2 linked regions of the Homo sapiens genome follow. The protein of the gene in region 2 interacts with the protein of the main gene of each other region in a biochemical or structural test. Each region holds a gene or a part of one and is shown on either strand. Other genes may lie near its edges.

What was found.
Region 1: the proteins of PTPN2 (region 2) and FAM220A form a complex in vitro, tested with the Homo sapiens proteins (one study listed by BioGRID).

What each region holds. Positions count from the first base shown.
Region 1 is NC_000007.14:6,338,882-6,347,724, forward strand, and holds part of FAM220A (protein FAM220A), read right to left. Parts: intron 1-8,843. UniProt on the Homo sapiens protein: Promotes dephosphorylation of transcriptional activator STAT3 by interacting with both STAT3 and protein phosphatase PTPN2.
Region 2 is NC_000018.10:12,868,726-12,885,609, forward strand, and holds the start of PTPN2 (tyrosine-protein phosphatase non-receptor type 2), read right to left. Parts: upstream 15,513-16,884; 5' UTR 15,417-15,512; coding exon 15,348-15,416; intron 1-15,347. UniProt on the Homo sapiens protein: Non-receptor type tyrosine-specific phosphatase that dephosphorylates receptor protein tyrosine kinases including INSR, EGFR, CSF1R, PDGFR.

The sequences.
Region 1 (8,843 bases), on a different chromosome or scaffold from region 2:
CAGGGCCGCGGTGGGCCTTGAGGGACTGCCGCACGCAAGGAGAGCTCACACACGCTCCCAGATGGGCCAGCTCCACACCCCTCAGGTGTGAACGCTAGCACACCTTAACTCACTGTGCTCATGGCCCAAATGATCAGACTGGAGGTAGCAGAAACAAACCCCCGGATTTCCACACAGCCTAGAGGAGGAGAAACAGCAATGACCACAGCACTTCTAAATTAGGCTGAATCATGATCACAAGGAACACACTAACATCACTGAGTTCCTGCTACTCGCCACTTGGCACGTCTAAATCACACCTGATGGCCAGGTGTGGTGGCTCACACCTGTAATCCCAGTACTTTGGGAGGCCGAGGTGGGGAGATCACTTGAGCCTAGGAGCCGGAGACCAGCCTGAGCAACACAGCAAGACCCCCATCTCTACAAAAAATTAAAAAATTAGCTGGGTGTGGTGCACACACCTGTGGTCCCAGCTACTCAGGAGGTCGAGGTGGGAGGATCGTTTGAGCCTAGGAGTTTGAGACCAGTCTAGGCAACATAGCAAGACCCCATCTCCATAAAAAATAAATCATCTGCCCCTATAAAACCAGCTGTGTACCCCTTTTTTTGTTTTTTTTTTTGAGACGGAGTCTCGCTCTGTCGCCCAGGCTGGAGTGCAGTGGAGCAATCTCAGCTCACTGCAAGCTCCGCCTCCCAGGTTCACGCCATTCCGCTGCCTCAGCCTCCGGAGTAGCTGGGACTACAGGCGCCCGCCACCACGCCTGGGTAATGTTTTGTATTTTTAGTAGAGACAGGGTTTCACCATGGTCTCGATCTCCTGACCTCATGATCCACCCACCTCAGCCTCCCAAAGTGCTGGGATTACAGGCAAGAGCCACTGTGCCCAGCCGTACCCCTCTCTTAACCACTGCCCTGTCTCCCCCTCCCGGTCCCCTGGATGCTCACAGGTGCGATCACAAGGAGAGGAGAGTGTGCAGAGGCCGGGTGCCAGCTCGGCGTCAGGCAACTGACTTTCCGCAGGGAGCATGAGTCTCACTCTGCCGCCCAGGCTGGAGTGCAGCTGCATGATCTCAGCTCACTGCAACCTCCACCTCCTGGGTTCAAGCACTTCTCCTGCCTCAGCCTCCTGAGTAGCTGGGATTACAGGCATGCACCACCACACCCAGCTAATTTTTGTATTTTTAGTAGAGATGGGGTTTCTCCATGTTGACCAGGCTGGTCTCAAACTCCTGACCTCAGGTGATCCGCCCGCCTCGGCCTCCCAAAGTGCTGGGATTACAGGCATGAGCTACCGCGCCCGGCCCCTCCCAGGATTCTGTGAAGATTCGATGTATGAGAAGCAGCCAGAATCTTCTCTGACTACTCTTCTCTGACTAGCATCCTAAGGGCATCCCAGCTGCTGTCGATCAGAATCAACAGCAGCTACTATCATCATCATGACCAAAAGTGTTTCAGGGAAGGACAAAACGCTGCTGAGAGGGTTGGTGCGGTGGAGGACGGAGAAGCGACCACTGCATGTGTGTACAGACACAGCCCCAACATGGGTAAGTACACTTCAGTAGAAGGGCAGAGGCCGTGCCATACCTGGAGTCGGCTGAAGCACGGAGGCCGTGCTGCACCTGGAGTTGGCTGAAGGGCAAATACAGACCACCCACAGCTTCCCCAACATTGCCAGGGAGGGAATTCAGGATAACAGACTCGAAGGAGGGCAGGTTGACAATGACTTAAAAAATTATGAGTGCTGGCTGGGCATGGTGGGATTATTCCCAGCACTTTGGGAGGCCGAGGCGGGCGGATCACGAGGTCAGGAGATCGAGACCATCCTGGCTAACACGGTAAAACCCTGTCTCTACTAAAAATACAAAAAATTAGCCGGGCGTGGTGGTGGGCACCTATAGTCCCAGCTACTCGGGAGGCTGAGGCAGGAGAATGGCGTGAACCCGGGAGGCGGAGCTGGCAGTGAGCCGAGATGGCGCCACTGCACTCCAGCCTGGGCGACAGAGTGAGACTCCATCTCAAAAAAAAAAAAAAAAAAATTATGAAAGCTGTCATCCTGCCTAACATGGTGAAACCCTGTCTCTACTAAAAAAAAAAAAAAAAAAAATTCAAAAAATTAGCCAGGTGTGGTGGTGGGAACCTACAGTCCCAGCTACTCGGGAGGCTGAGGCAGGGGAATGGCATGAACCCAGGAGGTGCAGCTTGCAGTGAGCTGAGATCGTGCCACTGCACTCCAGCCTGGGCGACACAGCAAGACTCTGTCCCAAAAAAAAAAATGAGTGCTGGCCAGGCACAGTGGCTCACCCCTGAAATCCCAGCACTTTGGGAGGCCAAGGAGGGTAGATCAGGAGGTCAGGAGATTGAGACCATCCTGGCTAACACGGTGAAACCCCATCTCTACGAAAATACAAAAAATTGGCTGGGCCTGGTGGCGGGCGCCTGTAGTCCCAGCTACTCGGGAGGCTGAGGCAGGAGAATGGTGTGAACCGGGAGGCGGAGCTTGCAGTGAGCGGAGATCGCGCCACTGTACTCCAGCCTGGGTGACAGAGCAAGACTCTGTCTCAAAAAAATAATAATAATAATTATTATTATTATTATGAGCACTGTCATCCTGGCTAACGTGGTGAAACCCTGCCTCTACTAAAAAAAAATTTTTTTTAAATTAGCCAGGTGTAGTGGTGGGAGCCTGTAGTCCCAGCTACTCGGGAGGCTGAGGCAGGGGAATGGCGTGAACCCAGGAGGTGGAGCTTGCAGTGAGCTGAGATCGCGCCACCGCACTCTAGCCTGGGCCACAGAGCAAGACTCTGTCAAAAAAAAAAAAAAAAATTATGAGTGCGCGCCAGGTGCAGTGGCTCACCCCTGTAATCCCAGCACTTTGGGAGGCCAAGGTGGGTAGATCACCTGAGGTCAGGGGTTCAAGACCAGCCTGGCCATCACGGTGAAACTCTGTCTCTACTAAAAATACAAACATTACCCAGGCATGGTGGTGGGCACCTGTAATCCCAGCTGCTTGGGAGGCTGAGGCAGGAGAATCACTTGAACCCGAGAAGTGGAGGCTGCAGTGAGCCAAGATCATACCATTGCACTCCAGCCTGGGCGACAAGAACAAGACTCCATCTCAAAAAAAAAATTGCAAGTGCTGAAAACCTTTGATTCAAGATTCTAAAGATTTTCTGCCACACATTCAATGAGCAATCACTCATTAAGAACCTACCCTACGCCAGGTGCCAGGTGCTGTTCTAGGTGCTGGTATTAGGTTGGTATACCAAGCAGACAGTCTCTTCTTAAAGCTTCATTTTCTTTCCTTTCTTTTTTCTTTCTTTTTCTTTGTTTCTTACTTTCTCTTTCTCTCTCTCTCTTTCTGTCTTATAGAAACAGTGTCTAGGCTGGGTGCGGTGGCTCACACCTGTAATCCCAGCACTCTGGGAGGCCGAGGCAGGTGGATCTCTTGAGCCCAGGAGCTGGAGACCAGCCCAGCTAACATGGCAAAACCCCGACTCTACTAAAAATACAAACATTAGCTGGGCATGGTGGTAGGCACCTGTAATCCCAGCTACTCGGGAGGCAGGAGAATCACTTGAACCCAGAAGTCAGAAGTTGCAGTGAGCCAAGATCACACCATTGCACTGCAGCCTGGGTGACAAAGCGAGACTCTGTCTCAAAAAAAAAAGTGATCTTTTTGAAATGGTTAGAGGAGTTACATATGATCCAGCAATTCTGCTCTAAGTATACACCCAAGAGAAATAAAAACCGATGTCCACACAAAGCTTACATGCAAATGTTCGTAGTAACATTATTCACAATAGCCAAAAAGTGAAAGCAACCCAAAAGTCCAACATAGAAAGACATAAAAGACAAAAACAAAAGACTAAGCAGGGCCAGGTATGATGGCTCACACTTGTAATCTCAGCACTTTGGGAGGCTGAGGCAGGAGGATTAGTTGAGGCCAGGAGTTCGAGACCACCCTGGGCAACATAGTGAGACCCCATCTAGAAACAAAATGAAAAAATCAACCAGGCATGGTGGCACATGCCTGTAGCCCCAGCTACTCAGAAGGCTGAAGTGGGAGGATGGCTTGAGTCCAGGAGCTGGAGGCTGTAGTGAGCTATGATCGCACCACTGCACTCCAGCCTGGATGACAGAGGAAGACGCTTTCTCAAAAAAAAAAAAGAAAAAAGAAAGAAAGAAAGAGGAAGAGAAAAGAAAAGAAAAAATTGGCCAGGTGCAGTGGCTTACACCTGTAATCCCAGCACCTTGGGAGGCCGAGGAGGGTGGATCCCCTGAGGTCAGGAGTTCAAGACCAGCCTGGCCAACATGGTGAAGCCCCGTCTCTACTAAAAATACAATAATTAGCTGGGCGTGGTACCAGGCACCTGTAATCCCAGCTACTCAGGAGGCTGAGGCAGGAGAATCGCTTGAACCTGGGAAGCGGAGGTTGCAGTGATCCAAAATCACACCACTGCACTCCAGCCTGAGCCACAAGAGTGAAACTCCGTCTCAAAAAAATAATAATAATTTCATATATATATATATATATATATATATATATATATATATATATATATATGATCTAGGACTAAGAAACACTTCGTTCTTCCCACAGGCCATATAACTGAAAAGTTGTAGGCATGACTTGTTAAATTATAGCAGATTCACAGTACCATTTTTAATCTTGCTTTTACTAAATTTAGTATTTGGTATTGATTCCATTTAACTGCCTTGTATTTCAGATTCTGTATAAATAAGAAGGATGCTAAGAACTCCAGGAGATTAAGGCTTGCTTGCAAATAGTATTTTAAAATCATAACCATTCTCAGTATACAACTGTCTGCATCATTTTCTCATTTAATCATCTTTCATCCTAAAGAGGTATTAACCTCCTTAAAATGCCTCACTGCCCTACAAACTAGAGATCTAGGGAGGAGGGGCTCCCTAAACAAATTTGGAAAATGGAGTTCCTTAGGCCTTATTACTCATGAAACAGATTCTAACATTCCTGCAATGAAGAGGATGGGTATGGCTTTTTCTTTTTAGTCTCACTCTGTCACCCATGCTGGAGAGCAGTGGTGGGATCATAGCTTACTGTAGCCTTGAACTCCCAGGCACAGGTGATCCTCCCACCTCAGCCTCCCAAGTAGCTGGGACTACAGGCATGCACCACTACATTCAACTAACTTTTAATGTTTTGTAGTGATGGTGTCTCACTATGTTGCCCAGGCTTCTCAAGCTCCTGGCCTCAAGCGAGGGTAAAGCATGTTCTGAAGAACAAGAAAAAAAAAAAAAAGGCGTGGGGCTGTCCCCCTTATTCCTTCAGATTCTATTTCCTGTTGTACCTCCCTTTACCAGAAAGCCACAAAAATTAAACCTTCAAATCAGGTAAGTTAGTGTTTTTTCACAAATGAACAAAAACTCTAAAACCTGCAGGGGAGTTTAAAGTAGCAGAGGTAAATATCAAGGCCAAGAAGACAGACACCCCACTCCCCACCCCCATGATGTGACATGGCTGCTTGTTGCACTTGGTCAAGCCCAAGCCTACAATCTTCACACTTGTGTCTTTTTTTACAGACGGGGTCTTGCTCTGTTGCCCAGCCTGGAGTACAGTGGTACAATTATAGCTCACTGCCTCCTCGACCTTCTGGCCTCAAGTGATCCACCTCAGTCTCCCAAGTAGCTGGGACTATAGGCATGCACCACCACGCCCAGCTAATTTTTGTATTTTTTGTAGAGACGGAGTTTCGCCCTGTTGCCCAGGCTGGTCTCAAACTCCTCAGTTCAAGTGATCCTCCCACCTTGGACTCCCAAAGTGCTGGGATTACAGGGTTGAGTCACGGCACCTGGCCCACTCAATTCTTTTTTTTAAATTTTATTATTATTTTTTTGGAGACGGAGTCTCACTGTGTTGCCCAGGCTGGAGTGCAATGGCACGAACTTGGCTCACTGTAACCTCCACCTCCCAGGGTTCAAGTAATTCTCCTGCCTCAGCCTCCCAAGTAGCTGGGATGACAGGCGCATGCCGCCATGCCCGGCTAATTTTTGTATTTTAGTAGAGATGGGGTTTCACCATGTTGGCCATGCTGGTCTCAAACTCCTGACCTCAGGTGATCTGCCTGCCTCAGCCTCTCAAAGTGCTGGGATTTACAGGCGTAAATCCCACCACGCCCGGCCACTGCGCCCGGCCAGAGTTTAGCTTTCTTTTAGAAATGACATGATCAGATTTATGGGAGGTTATGTGTTTTTCTTGTTGTTGTTTAATTTTAGAGACAGAGTCTCACTCTGTTGCCCAGGCTGGTGTGCAGCATCATGATCACGGCTCACTGCATCTTCGGCCTCCTTGGCTCAAGCGATCCTCCCACCTCTGCCTCCCAAGTAGCTGGGATTACAGGCACGCACCACGACACCCGGCTAATTTATTTTTTGTACAGACTGGGGTCTTGCTGTGTTGCCCAGGCTGGTCTGGAACTCCTGGGCTCAAGTGATCCTCCCACCTCAGTCTCCCAAAGTGCTGGGATTATAGGCATGAGCCACCACACCCAGCCCTCGATCTGATTTGTTTTTTAGAAGTTGCCTCTGATTGCTTGGTGGAGATGGCAGATACTACAATAGTCCAGGCGAGTGGATACAGTAGGGTAGACTAGAGAGGTGGTTATAAATAGAGAAGCAGATATATGAAAAAGGTAACTGTTTCAATGGTAAAGAGCATACCAATTTTCACCAAAACAGCATCATGTAGCAGGTTTTCTCTTATAGCCATTCTTGTGATTTTTACAAATGACTGCAAATTACGTTACTCTAGACAAAAAGGGGAGTACAGGAGCCAAATACAGCCTGTAGACACTTTTTGTTTTGCCCTCAAAGTTTCTTTTTTTAAAATCTGTTTTTTTGGTGGTGGTTATTATTATTATTTTTTTGAGACAGAGTCTCGCTGTGTTTCCCAGGCTGGAGTGCAGTAGGGTGATCTTGGCTCACTGCAACCTCCATCTCCTGGGTTCAAGTGATTCTCCTGCCTCAGCCTACCATGTAGCTGGGATTACAGGCGTGCACCATCACACCTGCCTAATTTTTGTATTTTTAGTAGAGATGGGGTTTTGCCATATTGTCCAGGCTGGTCTTAAACTCCTGACCTCAAGTGATCCGCCTGCTTCAGCCTCCCAATATACTGGGATTACAGGCATGAGACACCATGCCCAGCCAAAGTTTGTTTTTTAAAAATCCGGATTGGAAATCTAAAAATCTTGACTTCTGATTTCTCTTGGTGCTGACTAGATACGGCAAATACTGGGCCCCTATTTTCGAAGGTGGTAACTGGGGAGGGCTCAGGCCTTCTCGTTTACCAGTCCCCTGAACTGACACAGGAGCACCCTTCACTCAATTCAAGCCACCTGGTGGAGGTTTTGACCCCTCTAATCAGGTATAATTTCAGAATGCTACAAGCCCTTGATCACATGACAGTACCTCAATTTGGACCTCAAAATAAAGAGGCCAGTTAATCTCAACTCATTTACTTACTTGAGACAGAATCTTACTGTCGCCCAGGCTGGAGTGCAGTGGCACAATCTCGGCTCACTGCAACGTCTGCCTCCCAGGCTCAAGCGATCCTCCCACCTCAGCCCCACAAGCAGCTGGGACTACAGGTGCACGCCACCACTGCCCGGCCACCACGCCCAGCTAATTTTTTGTATTTTAGTAGAGACAGGGTTTCACCCTGTAGCCCAGGGTGGTCTCAAACTCCTGAGCTTAAGCGACGCAGACACCTTGGCCTCCCAAAGTGTTGGGATTACTTACAGGAGTGAGCTACTGTGCCCAGCCATCTTAACTCAATTTGGATCAACAGCCGGTGTTAGGTTTCATGTTAATTACCATCACCTGTGTCAGGCACCAGCCACCTGAAGACCTGCTACTGGGACAATCATACTTTGATATGGCCAAACCGACGTTAGAAAGGGACGGCACCTGCAGTGTGGTGGTTCTACTGCTCAGACTGGTTCATTCTGCACGCCAGGGAGCAACCCAAGGACCGTCCAACTGTAAACTCCCCAAAGGAGGGTCCCTCCTTCAGCACAGAGGTATGCAAATGGAATGCAAGAGGGGCTCAGGACTTGGCCAGCTTTCTTTGAGAAAGAATTCTCGAGTTGACAACCTTTCCTTCCACTAGAAAAAGTCATCTGAGGCTGGGCTCACTGGGTTCTGACTGTAATCCTAGTGCTTTGGGAGGGCAAGGCAGGAGGATCACTTGAGGCCAGAAGTTCAAGACCAGCCTTGGCAACATGGGAAGACCCTGTCTCTACCAAAAAGGAAAATATAAAAGAAAGAAAAAGGCAACTGGAATTCAAGGGATGTAGAAATATCAGTCTCTTGGCTGGGCGCTGTGGCTGACGCCTATAATCCCAGCACTTTGGGAGGTCGAGGCGGGCAGATCACTTGAAGTCAGGATTTTGAGACCAGCCTGGCCAACATGGTGAAAACCCAACTCTACTTAAAAATACAAAAATTAGCCTGGCGTGGTGGCGGGCACCTGTAGTCCCAGCTACTCAGGAGGCTGAGTCAGGAGAATCGCTTGAACTCGGGAGGCAGAGGTTGCAGTGAGCTGAGATGGCGCCACCGCACTCCAGCTTGGGCAAGAGTAAGACTCTGTCTCAGGGAAAAAAAAAAAAGAGATACCAATTTTTTACAGCAAAGGCGGTCTCCAGGGTGCTGGGGTGTGAGCATACTCTAAGATCAGCTGAATGGTTCCAGGCCTCTGAGACGTTTTGTGCTTCCACGTCTTCCACTTTATTTTCCCTGGTCTTCACCCTCACAACTCAGTTCCACCTCTGGCCAAAATACGGTACATTTATCAAAACGCTGTT
Region 2 (16,884 bases):
AGATTGAGACCAGGTGATCTGCCCGCTTCAGCCTCCCCAAGTGCTGGGATTACAGGCGTGAGCTACCACACCCAGCTCCTGATTTGTTTTAACAAGTGAAGCTATAAAACAAAGGCTCATATTCTGAATTTTAAAGTTTTAAGGCTGGGTGCGGTGGCTCACGCCTGTAATCCCAACACTTTGCGGGGCCCAGGCAGGCGGATCACTTGACATTAGGAGTTTGAGACCAGCCTTGCCAACATGGCAAAACCCTGTCTCTACTAAAAGTACAAAAACTAGCTGGGCATAGTGGCACGTACCTGTAATCCCAGCTACTCGGGAGGCTGAGGCAGGAGAATCGCTTGAACTCCGGAGGCAGAGGTTACGGTGAGCCGAGAACACACCACTACACCCCAGCCTGGGAAAAAGAGAGACGCCGTCTCAAAAAAATAAACAAGTAAAATTTTAATTTTATTTTACTTATATTTTTGAGACAAAGTCTTGCCTTGTCACTCAGGCTGGAATGCAGTGGTGTGATCACAGCTCACTGCAGCTTTGACTTCAGGGGCTCAAGTGATCCCCCCACCTCAGCCTCCCAAGTAGGTGGGACTGCAGGCACACCACCATGCCTGGCTAATTTTTTATTTTTATTTGCTATGTTGCTTAGACTGGTCTCAAACTCCTGGTCTCAAGCAATCTGCCTGCCTCGGCCTTCCAAAGCGCTGGTATCACAGGCGTGAGCCATGGCGCCTGGTTTTGAAGTTTTTATTTTAAAAATCTATATTACTGCAACTTAATTTCCATCATTATCGGGGTGAAATAGTTATAATATTTTATTAAATAATGTCAAATAATATTTTTAGTATTTCGTACATAGCTTTGTTCTATGTATGGCATACAGAAAACATTACATCGTTAGACCAAATTCTCCCTCGAACTGCTACGATGTAGTAGCAAATAAGAACTTAGGAAATTGAAAAAGAATAATCTTCTGTTAAATTTTAATTTTATAAGGTAGGACCTTAAGATAATCCCAAATTGATAATGAGTTTCTCCTTATGGGCTAACATACCTAAGTTTCTTTCTTTATACTTTAGGTCTCTAAGTGAATCCTAAATTATATGATGAAAAGTGTTCCCTTTGTTAGTCAGATGTTTGTGCATATACTCTCTACAAAGATGCTCAGAAAAGGACACAGTGAAGTATGAAGAATCTTGCATACTTTGAAACACCATTACTTTAGGATGGTAAAATAACCACTTACTTATAGCCCTTAATATGCCTGCCACTGGCTGGGGAGAGAAGATCCCTGGTGGAGTAAGTTCTTTTCTTCACTACATTTTTTTTTCTTTGAGAAGCTCTCTTTGAGGAAGAGAGTTTAGAGACTAAAACAGCTCACTGTCACTGAACCCTACTGTGTGTCAGGCATGTGCTATGTGCTTTTATGTGTGTTATCTAAGAGGTGGTTACAAATGAGAAAACAGACTCAACTTCCAAGATTTATACTGCAGTTAGGTAGCAGATACAGATAGGAATCCAGTACTTAACTTTAGCATATATATATATATGTATATATATACATATACATATATATGTGTATATATACATATATATGTGTATATATATGTATATATATACATATATATGTGTATATATATGTGTATATATACATATATATACGTATATATGTATATATACACGTATATATATGTATATATATACGTATATATATATGTGTATATATATATATATATATATAGAGAGAGAGAGAGAGAGAGAGAGAGAGAGAGAGAGAAAAGCGTGTTGTTTTTTTTTTTTTTTTGAGACAGAGTTTCACTCTGTTGCCCAGGCTGGAGTGCAGTGGCGCGATCTTGGCTTACTGCAAGCTCCACCTCCCAGGTTTACACCATTCTCCTGCCTCAGCCTCCCGAGCAGCTGGGACTACAGGCGCCCGCAACCACGCCCGGCTACTTTTTTTGTGTTTTTAGTAGAGACGGGGTTTCACCGTGTTAGCCAGGATGGTCTCGATCTCCTGACCTCATGATCCGCCCACCTCGGCCTCCCAAAGTGCTGAGATTACAGGAGTGAGCCACCGCGCCCGGCAGCACATACATATTTTTTTACTTATATTTACATATATTTATATACATATGCTCCCTATGTATACATGGATTACATGGACTTGGCAAAAATTAAACCGTACAAAAGGGTATATAGTGAAAAAGTTAAGTCACATTCTCCTCTCCCTCAATCCTTTCCCTTAGGTGATAACTGTAACCAGTGCCTTGTATATTTTCCGAGACATTCTATCCATATATAAGCCAGACTGCCTGTCTGTCTTCCTCCATCCAAGTATCCATCCCACCCTCACAAAACAGATATTAGCATACTGTTTTGCACTTTGATTTTTCACTTAGTATATATTAAAAGTACTTCCATATAGATAATGAGTTCTTTTTAACAATTTAATAGTATTCATCACTTAGCCAGTCATCTATAATGGGACACATAGGTTATTTCTAGGTTTTAGCTGTTATAAATAATGCTGCTATGAATAACCTTTCAAAGAAGCTATATCAATGTATACTGTCACCAATAATATAAGAAAGTGCCTGAGCTTCACCTACACAATTATATTAATGAACTTTTTCATCTTTGTCTGATAGGTGAAAAATGGTATTATTATAGTCATAATTTGAAATTGTTATTATTGTGAAGGTGAACAGCTTTACCTGTTTTTAAAAGCCATCTGTATTTCCGCTCTCTTTTTGATATGTAGTTCTTTACATATTAAGAAAGTTTAGTTTTTGTTATATATTGAAAATATTTAAAATTTTTTATCTTTTGACCTTTATGGTATTTATGTCAAAAATTTAAATTTTTATGAAATCAAACTTAAACCTTTTTTCTCTAGGTTTCTGTGACATGGCATTAAAAAATCCTTTTTCACTCTGTTGATTACAAAAAATTTTCTCCATTGTTTTCTTATATAATTTTATGGTTTCATTTCTTTTATGTTTAGATTATTGCCCAACCGGGACTTTACTGTAGTATAAAGAATGAGGCAGGGCAGGCATGTTGGCTCACATGTATAATCCCAGCTCTCTGAGAGGTGGGCTGATCACTTGAAGTCAGGAGTTCAAGACCAGCCTGGCCAACATGGGGAAACCCTGTCTCTACTAAAAATACAACAATTAGCTGGGCGTGGTGGTGCACGCCTGTAATCCCAGCTACTGAGGAGGCTGAGGCAGGAGAATCGCTTGAACTCAGCATGCAGAGGTTGCAGTAAGCCGAGATCGTGCCGTAGCATTCCAGCCTGGGGCCACAGAGCAAGACTCTGTCTCAAAAAAAAAACAAAAAAACAAAAAAACAAAAACAAATAAAAAACCCACAAAAAACATAGAACAGAAGCAGTTCCCACTGTTACGAAGTTACTCCAACTTTCTAGGGCTACCCTGATTGATGTACCAGGTCCTTTACTGGGACTAGAGGGGTACAAACTCTAGGAATCCTGTAGCCTTACCTCAAACCACAGGAAGAATTCCTAGAAGTACTATGAAGTAAACTGTAATGAGAAATTGATAGCTTTCAGACTATAAAACCGTTCAAATATAGTGAAAGAAGAAATAAAATAATTCAGTATCAGATTTTCCTTAGGGGAATGAAAGCAGTTTGAAAAAAGGTTATAAATGATCAGTGACACGAACCAAATGAAACTGACAGAGCAAACGGCATATTAAATCAGACATACTGGATTTGAAAAGTTATTCATTGCATTCCCTTCCTCCATTCCTCTCGTTTGAAAAGTATCCAACCTTGAGCCAGTTTCTTTGTTTTGAGACAAACAGTGCTGGGATTACAGGTGTAAGCCACCAGCCCGGCCCCTGAAATCAGTTTCTTGACCACAATTTCTTATCCTAGGGATCACCAGGTGGGCCTATGAACCTACTAAAACCACATGCTAAGTTTGCGGGGGATTGTATTTGTGCGGACATTTCCTCTCATAAACATGTTTCATCTTAAAGGTGTCTAAAGGTATCTATGATCTTTAAAAGCAAGGATTTCACTGTTAAGTCAAAACAACTTCTTGAACCATTAGTAGTACTGTACCGTACATAGAACATTAAATCGGCACAACATTTAAATACATTTAAAATGGCATTACATTCATTCTTAAAAGCTATTTCAGATAATGGCACTGCAGGGCAATGCTATTCCAATTAAGAATGTAACAGGCTGGACGCGGTGGCTCACGCCTGTAATCCCAGCAATTTGGGAGGCCAAGGTGGGTGGATCACCTGAGGTCAGGAGTTCAAGACTGGCCCAGCCAACACAGCGAAACCCCATCTCTACTAAAAATACAAAAATTAGCTGGGTGTGGTGGCGCATGCCTGTAGTCCCTGCTACTTGGGAGGCTGAGGCAGGAGAATCACTTGAACCAGGGAGGTGGAGGTTGCAGTGAGCCAAGATCGTGCCACTGCACTCCAGCCTGGTTGACAGAGTAAGACTCCGTCTCAAGAAAAAAAAAAAAAAGCCTCTCCCTCTCCCTCTGCCTCCTCTCCCTCTCCCCACGGTCTCCGTCTCCCCACGGTCTCCCTCTCCCTCTCTTTCCACAGTCTCCCTCTGATGCCGAGCCGAAGCTGGACTGTACTGCTGCCATCTCGGCTCACTGCAACCTCCCTGCCTGATTCTCCTGCCTCAGCCTGCAGAGTGCCTGCGAGTGCAGGTGCGCGCCGCCATGCCTGACTGGTTTTCGTATTTTTTTGGGGGAGACGGGGTTTCGCTGTGTTGGCCGGGCTGGCCTCCAGCTCCTAACCGCGAGTGATCCGCCAGCCTCGGCCTCCGGAGGTGCCGGGATTGCAGACGGTGTCTGGTTCACTCAGTGCTCAATGGTGCCCAGGCTGGAGTGCAGTGGCGTGATCTCGGCTCGCTACAACCTCCACCTCCCAGCCGCCTGCCTTGGCCTCCCAAAGTGCCCAGAGTGCAGCCTCTGCCTGGCCGCCACCCCGTCTAGGAAGTGAGGAGCGTCTCTGCCTGGCCACCCATCGTCTGGGATGTTAGGAGCCCCTCTGCCTGGCTGCCCAGTCTGGAAAGTGATGAGCATCTCTGCCCGGCCGCCATCCCATCTAGGAAGTGAGGAGCGTCTCTGCCCGGCTGCCCATCGTCTGAGATGTGGGGAGTGCCTTTGCCCCGCCGCCCCGTCTGGGATGTGAGGAGCGCCTCTGCCCGGTCGCGACCCCGTCTGGGAGGTGAGGAGCGTCTCTGCCCAGCCGCCCCATCTGAGAAGGGAGGAGACCCTCCACCTGGCAACCGCCCCGTCTGAGAAGTGAGGAGACCCTCCGCCCGGCAGCCGCCCCGTCTGAGAAGTGAGGAGCCCCTCCGCCCGGCAGCCACCCTGTCTGGGAAGTGAGGAGCGTCTCCACCTGGCAGCCGCCCCGTCCAGGAGGGAGGTGGGGGTCAGCCCCCGCCAGGCGAGCCGCCCCATCTGGGAGGGAGGTTGGGGGGTCAGCCCCCCGCCCGGCCAGCCGCCCCGTCCGGGAGGGAGGTGGGGGGTTCAGCCCCCCGCCCGGCCAGCCGCCCCGTCCGGGAGGGAGGTGGGGGGGTCAGCCCCCCGCTTGGCCAGCCGCCCCGTCTGGGAGGTGAGGGGCGCCTCTGCCCGGCCGCCCCTACTGGGAAGTGAGGAGCCCCTTCCGGGAGGGAGGTGGGGGGATCAGCCCCCGCCCGGCCTGCCGCCTCGTCCGGGAGGTGAGGGGCGCCTCTGCCCGGCCGCCCCTACTGGGAAGTGAGGAGCCCCTCTGCCCGGCCAGCCGCCCCGTCCGGGAGGAAGGTGGGGGGGGGTCAGCTCCCCGCCCGGCCAGCCGCCCCGTCCGGGAGGGAGGTGGGGGGTTCAGCCCCCCGCCCGGCCAGCCGCCCCGTCCGGGAGGGAGGTGGGGGGGTCAGCCCCCCGCCCGGCCAGCCGCCCCGTCCGGGAGGGAGGTGGGGGGGTCAACCCCTCGCCCGGCCAGCCGCCCCACCCGGGAGGTGAGGGGCGCCTCTGCCCGGCCGCCCCTACTGGGAAGTGAGGAGCCCCTCTGCCCGGCCACCACCCTGTCTGGGAGGTGTGCCCAACAGCTCATTGAGAACAGGCCATGATGACAATGGTGGTTTTGTGGAATAGAAAGCAGGGAAAGGTGGGGAAAAGATTGAGAAATCGGATGGTTGCCGTGTCTGTGTGGAAAGAAGTAGACATGGGAGACTTTTCATTTTGTTCTGTACTAAGAAAAATTCTTCTGCCTTGGGATCCTGTTGATCTGTGACCTTACCCCCCAACCCTGTGCTCTCTGAAACATGTGCTGTGTCCACTCAGGGTTAAATGGATTAAGGGCAGTGCAAGATGTGCTTTGTTAAACAGATGCTTGAAGGCAGCATGCTCGTTAACAGTCATCACCACTCCCTAATCTCAAGTACCCAGGGACACAAACACTGCGGAAGGCCTCAGGGTCCTCTGCCTAGGAAAACCAGAGACCTTTGTTCACTTGTTTATCTGCTGACCTTCCCTTCACTATTGTCCTATGACCCTGCCAAATCCCTCTCTGTGAGAAACACCCAAGAATGATCAATAAAAATAAAAATTAAAAAAAAAAAAAGCATAGAACAGAAAAGTTTAGTTTTCTTCTACTCAGGAAAGTGAGAGCTTATATTCTTTAAAGTTAGCCTGTGGAAATGTATCTCTTCCTCAGTTATCAGCTGCTATGTCTTAAATTTTACATGCTAAACTGATTGAGGATTTAGTATATGGCTAATCACTCTTATCCAAAGTAAGGGTGGTATTATTAAAAGTTCAGTTTATTAGTTGGTTTAAATATCCTCTGACTCTCAACAGCTTTCCATTAAGAAAAAACTACCTTAATGGGGCATTAAGTTAAGGAATAGAGAGTAGAGAATCTAGATGAGGATTTCCAAGGGAAACAAATCATACGTAACGTTTATTCAAGAAAGTGAAGAGCACACTATGTTAATTTTAATTTCGCGTACCCAGACCTTATCTGTCCATCTCTCTGGTTTATCTGGACTATTTGGAGACCAAAGGGAAGAAGGGGAGTAGAGAGTGGACAGGTAAGAGGACAAAGACAAGGTAGCTAAAAGAACAGCAGGGGACTGAGAGAGCTGTAACAGTTCTCCAACTGGGAATCAGAAATTCTCTGCAGAGTAACTATCTGGAAAAAGTAAAAAGGGCTTTTAAGATTCTGGTTGGCCAAGCACTGTGGCTCCCCAGCATTATGGAAGGGTGAAGCCGGAAGATCGCTTTAGCCCGGGAGTTCGAGACCAGTCTGGACAACATGGTGAGAACCTGTCTCTACAAAACATAAAAAATTAGCCAAGCATGGTGGCGTGCATCTGTGCAGTGAGCCGTGATCTCATCACTGCACTCCAGTCTGGGTGACAGAGTGAGACCCTGTCTCAAAAAACAAAACAAAACAAAATTCTGGTTAAGGGCTGGGCATGGTGGCTCATGCCTGTAATCTCGCCACTTCGGGAAGCCAAGGTGAGCAGACCACTTGAGGCCGGGAGTTCAAGACCAGACCAGCCTGGCCAACAAGAACAACAACAAAAAGAAGAAGAAGAAGAAGAAATTTGTCAGGCGTGGTGGTGTGTGCCTGTAGTCCCAGCTTCTCGGGAGGCTGAGGCAAAGGACCACTTGAGCCAGGAGTTTTGAGTCTGCAGTGACCTACGATCGTGCCACTGCACTCCAGCCTGGGTGACGGAATGAGACCCCTTCTCAAGAAAAAAAGAAGATTCTGGTTAAAATCAAGAAATCAAAAAAGAGGCAACTAGAAAAGCTAGGAGACAAACGCAACTATCTGGATTTCCGTAATTATAGATATCAGTAATCTATAAACACATGTCAAAGGCAAAACAATATGATTTCTAGGTATACATTCCCCATTGGGGCACCCATCCCAAGGCTGCTTTCCCTTCAAGCAGTGGTCTTTACCTTTTGAGGGATCACAGACAAATCCACTAAGAAACTGACAAAAGCTACAGAATCACCTAGAAACGAAATACCTGGGAACACACGTACATAAAATTTAGCAGTTTCAGGAGATTTGCAAATACCTTTCAAGTCTGATCCCTGGATCCCAGACACTGTTTTAAAGGCCTCAAGTCCCAAAATGACCCTACCTATTATAACACATCCACTCCCTCCTAGCCATCAAAATTAAGACGATTCCCTCTGTGCCACTGATCTCAAATAGATCATAAGAAGAAAGCACTACAGGTAGTCACATGGGTAAATTAGGGCAGTGCTGAAACGAGAATCAGAAGGACTGGATTTGAGTCCCAGTTATGACACTAGCAGATATTGTAACATCAGATAAGTCACAACACTGTATTGGCCCAGTGTTTCCTCAGCCATAAATGAGGGGTTTGGAATAAACTAAGGTGCTGACATTTTAAAAGGGAACAGTTTTCCTGTGTTTACTGAATATTTACTGAGCATCTAACATGTTTCAGGTCCCGTAGGTAGGTGGTGGGAAAACAAAGAAAAAAAAAGACCACCCTCAAGGAGCTACACAGAACAGACAAGTAGACAGTTACAAAACAATGTGGTTCATATTCTAATAAAAGAATATAGAGAACTAAGAAATGAGAGAAGGGGGAGCATTTAACTTTGCCCAAGGAGACTACGGTCTAGTCTTGAAGATGTTTCCCAAATAGATATGGTAGGCATGGAGTATATCCAACACATGAAGACTCCAAGGTGTGAGAGAGTAGCCAATCTTCAAGGGAATTCAGAGTTTGTGCAACCATGTAAAAGCACTGAGATTAGACAGCAGGCAGGAGAATGTGTAACTAGTAGGCAAGGGAAGTGTTTTAGAATAAGACAGCTTTGATTCACCTGCCTAACTGGCTGCCCCGCTGTAAGTATGAGAAGAACAGTGTGCACTTGATATCTGACTTCTAAAAATTAGCTGACTCACAAATGGTAAAAATTGTTCTCTAGCAATATTTGAACTACAAATTTCTAATAAAGAAAAATGGCGGCCAGGCGCAGTGGCTCATGCCTATAATCCCAGCACTTTGGGAGGCCGAGGCAGGTGGATCACAAAGTCAGGAGATCAAGACCATCCTGGCTAACACGGTCAAACCCCGTCTCTACTAAAAATACAAAAAATTAGCCTGGCGTGGTGGCGGGCGCCTGTAGTGTTGGCGGGCGCCTGTAGTCCCAGCTACTCAGAAGGCTGAGGCAGGAGAATGGCGTGAACCTGGGAGGCAGAGCTTGCAGCGAGCCGAGATGACGCCACTGCACTCCAGCCTGGGCAACAGAGCAAGACTGTCTCAAAAAAAGAAAAAGAAAAAAGAAAAATGGCCAGGCACAGTGGCTCATGCTTGTAATCCTAAGCCTTTGGAAGGCTGAGGTGGACAGATTGCTTGAACTCAGGAGTTGAAGACCAGCCTGGGCAAAATAGTTAAACCCTGTCTCTACAAAAAATACAAAAAAATTAGCCAGGCCCAGCTACGTGGGGGACTGAGGCAGGAGGATGTCTAAAGCCCAAGAGGTCGAGACTGCAGTGAGCTGAGATCACGCCACTGCACTCCAGACTGGGTGACAAAGTGAGACCCAGTCTCAAAAAGAAAAGAAAGAAAAAGAAAAAAAAAGAAAGAAAAAGGAAAAAAAGAAAGAAAAAGAAAAATGTGGCTGGGCGTGGTGGCTCACACCTGTAATCCCAGCAGCACTTTGGGAGGCCGAGGCAGGTGGATCACCTGAGGTCAGGAGTTCAAGACCAGCCTGACAAACATGGTGAAACCCCGTTTCTACTAAAAATACAAAAATTAGCTGGGCGTGCTGGTGGGCACCTGTAATCCCAGCTACTCGGGAGGCTGAGGCAGTAGAACTGCTTGAACCTGGGGGGAGCAGAGGTTGCAGTGAGCTGAGATCACACTACTGCACTCCAGCCTGGGGGACAGAGCAAGACTTGGTTTCAAAAAAAGAAAAATGAAGTCAGTCAGGAGTTCCATTGTTTATAAACCCTAATTAATCAACCAATTTCCAAGAGGCTGAGGTGAGAGGCTCACCTGAGCCCAGGAGTTTAAGGTTGCAGTGAGCTATGATTGCACCACTGCACTTGTACTCCAGACTGGGCAACAGAGTGAGAACTCTTTAAAAAAGAAAGGAATTTAAAAATAAATAAGCCAAATTCCTTCTGAGCCATCACTTCTTAGAAACAACCCATAACATAGCTTTTGCGATTCCCCAGTTTTAGTCTTTTCCTCAGTAGGCACACAGACTCCATTCCTTCTCTCTGCCTTTCTCAAAGCTCAGCCTGATGAAGACAGCAATCAGCAGTGACAAAAGGAAAAGCCAAAAAGGGATCATGAACATTACTCAAAAAGTCAGAATTAACCTCACACAATCAGACCAAATTAAACTTTTCCAACTGCACCCTTTGTTTTGCTGTTCTTGTTTTAGAGACAGGATCTCACTCTGTCACCTAGTCTGTAGTGCAGTGGCACAATTATGGCTCACTGCAGCCCTAACCTCCTGACCTCAAGTGATCCTCCCACCTCAGCCTCCCAAAGCGCTGGGATTACAGGGATGAGCCACCGCCTGGCCAGCACTCTTTCACGATCAATTCTTCCACCTGTGTGCTCTTGGTCCCATTGACTCTTGCTTTCTAAGATTTCTGGCTCCAACAATCATCCCTTCTATTTCAACCTCCACCTCTCTCTTTAGGTTCATCCCTGCAATCACATAAATATATCAAGTTGCCCTTTCCTCGTAAAAAGTCATTCATTCAGCACATATTTTCAAGTGCTTACTAAGCACCTGATACTGTGCAAAGCACTGGCAGTGCCTTCATGAAACTCTGAAGAAGTAATAAAAAATATAAACTCAGATTAACAGAGTCTGTTCTGCTCCAACCCAATAATTCATTTCTAAGAAACCTCCTATTATCAAACTCATGAAATAAAAGACACTTTTCAAAAGGAGCAAAAAGGAATAAGGGACCAGAGTTCCAGACTCAAAATACTAAATTCATTTTTCCCGCTAGAATTTCAACAAGGTATCAAGTTCTCCTACCACTAAGCAAGTCCAGCTTTTAGTTGTACTCAGTTTTTGCTCAAGAGCAAAGCCTTTCTTTTCCCAGCTCCATGAGCATTACCAAAAAAAGCACAACTCTTCAAAAACATTATCAGAAACATCACCCACTGCTGTGCTAAACAAAGCAGAAAGCCACCTTAAACACTTTTTTCCTACTCAAGCTGTGTTACTTTCAAGATAGTGGTTTGCTTAATGCAAATTGTGTTCCCGAAATCATTTGCTGCTGTATGACATCCAATTCCCGCTATGAAAGGGGAAGTCTTGGGATGCTAAAGAAGTACGCAACAGGGGCTCATACCCAGCATGGGCAGGTCAAGAAGGCCTGCCAAGGAAGTGAGACTTCAGGGATGAGTAGGAGGCAGTTTAAGCAAGAAAGGAAAGAGAAGGGGGGAAAGTTGTGCCAAGGCAAAGAGAACAACATTTACAAACGCCCTAAGGGGAGAATGGACACACACACTTCCAAGAATACAACACAGTGGAAAAGAGGGAGGAAAGTGATAGGGGAAATCAAGCAAGAGACACAGGCCATGAGGTCTTGTGAGCCGGAGGAGGGGCTGAATTTACACTGTGAGCAACGGAAAGCCGTTCAAGGGTTTAAGTGAGAAGTCACACAATCTTGCTTCATTTTAGCTACCTCTCCCCACTTCTTCAAGTTGGGCTTCTAAAAAGAGCAGTGTACACTTGGTAGTTTGCATTTCCTCCTACCTTCTCTCCTGAACTCCAGGTATCTGTCTTGTGTAGTCCGCTGACACAACTCCCTTTAAGGTATCTGTTAATCTAGCTGCTCAATGTCATGGCCCTCTCAGGCTGGCCCTTACCTGTCAGGTGGCCCTGCTCACCCTCAACTCCCTCCACTGCTTTCCTCCCCACTTCTGTGGTTGTTCCTCACCAGTCTTTTTTGCAAGTTCCTCTTTCTCCACCCATCCTTTTAAATGTTGTCTGTCAAGATTCTGTCCTTGGCCTTTGATATTTCCAAACGCTCTGTATCTTCCCTAGATGATCTCATCAATGTCTAAGACCTCAAATATCACCCATGTGTTCATGATTTCCAAAATCACATTTACTCAGACCCTCTCTCCCGAACTCCAAATTTATACATTCAACTAGCTTCATTTCAGTGTCTCGCAGGTACCTCAAACAGAATTAAAGTTTCAAAACCAAACTTGTACATAACGTATACCCCTTTACCATTTCATTTCAAATCTGTATCTCCCCTCCATCCCTCCTGCCACTGCCTAACAGAAGCTCATCATGTCTCTTCAGGTTTACTCCAACCGACTACTGCCCTGTGCTGCGTGCCTACACTTTCCTCATCCAGTCTGCTAGCAGTCAGAACGATCTTGCTAACAAGTAAATATGATCAGCCCAGAGCAGTGGCTCATGCCTGTAATCCCAGCACTTTGAGAGGCCGAGGCAGGCGGATCACCTGAGGTCAGGAGTTCGAGACCAGCCTGGCCAACATGTCGAAACCCTGTCTCTACTAAAAGTACAAAAAAATCAACCGGGCATGGTGGTGTGTGCCTGTAATTTCAACTACGCAGGAGGCTGAGGTAAGTGAATCACTTGAACCCAGGAGGCAGAGGTTGCAGTGAGCTGACGTCGCACCACTGCACTCCAGCCTGGGCGACAGAGCGGGACTCTGTCAAAAAAAAAAGAAGCAAATATGATCATGGTATTTCCAGACTTACAATTCCACAATGAGTTCCTATTAAACAGCTCAAATTCCTTAGTCTGATCTAGGCTCTGCCTTACTCTCCAGCATCTCAACTTCACACCAGTCTCCAGGCTAAACTGTGGGTGGTTCTCTCAGCATTCCCTCAGTGCCTTTGTGCACTCCCTCCTTGCTGGAACAGTAATTCTCTTCACCTCCCTTGTCCTCTTCCCCTGGCCAATGTCTTTCAAGACTTAGGTGAGGTCCTCCCTCCCTCGAGAAGCTTCACCAGAACTCCCATGTGTACCCCTTTTTGGGAAATACAGGACTCCTAGGTAACTCAACTCCACAAGACCCTGTGCTTCAAGCTAGCTTTACATGTATCACTTTAACGTTTTCATCAGCTTACCTATTTACAGGGCTGCATCCTTAAAAACTGGGACTCCTGTCTTTTAACAAGAATCCTCAGTGTCTAACACTAGCACATAACAAGCATGTTATGAACGAATGAATGAAAATATGGAACTACAATGAGGCCCCAAAAGAATAAGCCCTAGAGTGAGCACCTCGAGGGTAGGAAACTTGCCAGGAGCATTCTCTGCTGAATCCCCAAGGCCAGGAGCAAAAGCTGCAACTCCACTGGGGGTCCGGGCATATTTGTGGAATGGCTGAATGGATGTTCTAAGGCCACAGGAGAACACATAGCTCAAACTTCCTGACTTGCTTTCCATTACTAACTTTCTTGGTTTGTGACCTACTTTTACTGTAACACCAGTGTGCATGCCATGGTTTCTACTGACCAAACTAATGGTCTTGTTTTCAACTAGGAAAAAATAATATGAGCATTGACCAACCAAGGAAACTACAGGATTCCTCGGTAAGAATCTATAGAAGGATTTCCTTATCTTTTTGAAAATGCATGTGAAATCTCCAGTGGATGCGAGTTAAGTTCATTTTTCTGGAAAGAGGAATCACAATTCTCATTGAATTTTCAAGGATATTAATGATACCAAAGAAAATTAAATTTCTTAAACCAAAATGTTAAGCTGAATTAAGTTATATTCACTTTTCTCTTTTCAAATCTATTTCGATATATAACCTATCCCTTAGAGAGACAGCAGCCTCTGCTAAAACAAATGTAACTGGAGAAGATGCAGCTGGCAGGCTCTCTCACATGAAGATTCCTACCAGAATTTGCGTTTCAGATTGTCTATAATTGGAAGAGTCCTTACCAGCATTCTTTAAAACTTAGATCCCTATTCTAACATACTCTGTATCATGGGAATCAGAATATTTATACTTCCCACTAATGTGTTCAAGAAGAAAACGTTACTTTCTGAACACATTTTTCACTGCCATCTAATTAAATGGAAAGGGGAAAAACCCAGGATCATCCATTTACAGGAAAGCCCGTCTTTTACTTTACACAGAGAGAACCAAACATCAGAAGCAGCATTAACTTAACCGTCACCAAATTCAATCTTGGGAATAATACGACAAGGATTAAACGAAGGGGAAAGCAGTTACATCATTTTAAAAGAGATAAAGTTTTGTTTGAATTAAAAGGTAGTCTAGTTGACATAAAAAAAGCGAATCACAGGTGTTTATACTACATATTGCATCTATGTGAGCTGAACAGGCACGATTAGGGCGATAGGCATCGGAACACCGTGCCCCCGGGGAGGGGATGAGGGCACTTTCTCAGGGCAAGGAAAGGCTATTTTGATTTGAGGGGGCTTGCAAGAGGGGATTCATTTGTGACACCCGTCTGGGAGCACACATGAAAGCTGCGTTTCACTGTAGGGAAAGTATACCTCAGTAAGGAAAACTATAAAGAGAATGACACGCTATCACTGGACGAACACAAGCAAAGCCTCTTTCGTTCCGGGAAGGTTCTATGGGGGCCGAACCCACGCTGGGCGCTGCTGGGCCACGGGGGAAAATGAAGACGGAGGGTCCCGAGAGCGCTGCCCTCGCCAGAGGCCACGAGCCACCCCCAACCACCGCGGCTCCGCCAGGAGAGCGAGCTTCGCCTCGCAGAGGGCTGCGGCGGCCGGCCCGGCGCCCAGAGCGGCCTGCTCCCACAGGTCCTGCGCGGGCGCCAGCTGGACCCGGACGCCGCGGCCCGGCTCGCCCGCCCCCGCCCTCACCGCTCCCGGGGACGCCAGCTGCCCACCCGGCCACAAAACACCCGGCCAGAGAAAGAGCTGTCCGCGAGCAAGAACCAAGCACAGCGGCGTGGGAGCTACGGCGAAGCTGCGGCCCGGGGGCGCGCGCCCGAGCGCCCCCACGGCTTTCCCAAGGACCCCCAGACCCGGGCCGCGCAACGCTGGTGGCGCATCCACGCGCTCCCCAAGAAGCCGCTGTGGCACCGCCCTCCAGAACTAACTGCGCTTGCGCTAACCATGAGCTGCTCAGCTCAAGTATGCTTTTTTTTTTTTTTTTTTTAAACCAAAAGGAGCAAGAGAGCGGTCAGCGCAGGCGCGCCCCTGACGCGGACCGCGCCGCCACTTCCGCCCCGAGCGAGAGGCTAGAGGCGAGAGGCGGGGGAGGCGGGAGGGACCCTGCGGACAGGGCACGAGTCCGGGTCTCGGAGGAGGTCGGCGACTGCCGCGTGGGTCCGCGACTCACCAAGTACAGCGGCTGCCAGCGACGCTGAGTATCCAACTCTTCGAACTCCCGCTCGATGGTGGTGGGCATGGCTGCGGGAGCGAGCTGGCGCGAGCAGAGCCTGCGCCGGCGGAGAGGCTCAGGCCCCGCACGATCCGGGGAGAGCGCTGGCGCTGCGGCGCATGCGCGCTGCGCGCCGCGCCCCGCCCCCACGCCAAGCCCTGTCGGCCGTGGGGAAAGTACCTGGAGCGTCGGACGTCAGCGCGCAGACTCGGCGCCCGAGCGCGGCGCGAAGTCGGCGGCGGGGCGGGGCGGGGCGCTCGGGGGGCGGGGCTCGGGGTGCCCAGGTGGGAGGGGGCGGGGCCAGGGGACCACCCGGCGGCCGTGGTCCCTGCGCGCGGCACGAGGTGAGCCGCCCCTTGGGCTTGCGTCTTCCGACAAGAGAGAGGCGGTGGTCCGTGGGTAGCGCGGGGTTACTGGAATGGGACTCCCTGAGGAAGTCCCCTGAGAAGTCGCCGGCACGCTCCGCCTTCCTTCTTGCTTCCCATTTCTCGTTTTCTTCTCAGCCTTCATAGTTTTTTAAAGTGCTGTATTTGAATATTATTTTAAACATCATCTAGGTCAGATTAGCGGCCTGTGACCAACTTGGAAACAAATTCCTCATTCTTTTCTGCCCTGGTGTCAGCTCCTGTAAGCCTGCAGATTTTATGCCAAATAAACCGCTGGAGCAAAAGGAAAGGCAGCCAGCCTCTCCCGGAATTTGGGAGAGGGATACCTTGTTAAGAAAACGTTCTACAACTTACGAATTAGATTTAACTGTAAAAAATAGCACGTCCTCTTTTACCAAACAAACGTACTAGTTAGGGAAATCATCTTGCTTCAGATTTAAGATAGTTCTTTTTTAGTGCTTGTAATATCCTGCTATATAATCTTCATAAGAAACGTGAAGGGTTAGGAAAGGTTTAGCCGTGCTGTCCAGTATTGGGATTTAAATTTTAAATATTAACTTAATTCCTCAGTGGCACCAGCCACATTTCAGGTGTGCCATAACCATGTATGGCTAGTGGCTGCTATGTGGCAAAGTACATATGTAGAACGTTTCTATCATCGAAGACAGTTCTTTTGGACAGAGCCGGCCGAGAGGATTACAATACTTGGGGCAGAAAAGTGTCCTTAATCACATAAAATAATGAAAACCCTAGCCAGAAAAAAAAAAAAAAAAGTTGGCTACGGAAGCTAGAAGAAATCGTATTAACAAAAAAGCAGTCAGCAAGCTTTCTACTTACATAGTATGATTTAGAGATACAGGAAAGCTTCCCCCGAAAGACCCCACAATGTCTAATGGTCCTTGGTTCTGAAATTCTGTCATTGAATCTGATTATTTTGATTAAAGGCATGGTATCTCCCAGAATATCCTGTGAATGTTCGCATTAGTCTGCTCATCAGATTGCTTTCCAACCAAAAAATACTGTGTTCTACAAAGGAGGAGCATCTTTATCTCAAAGCAGCAGTTCTTATCGCCAAGTATTCAGCATCTCTTTGGAATTCATTTGTCAGC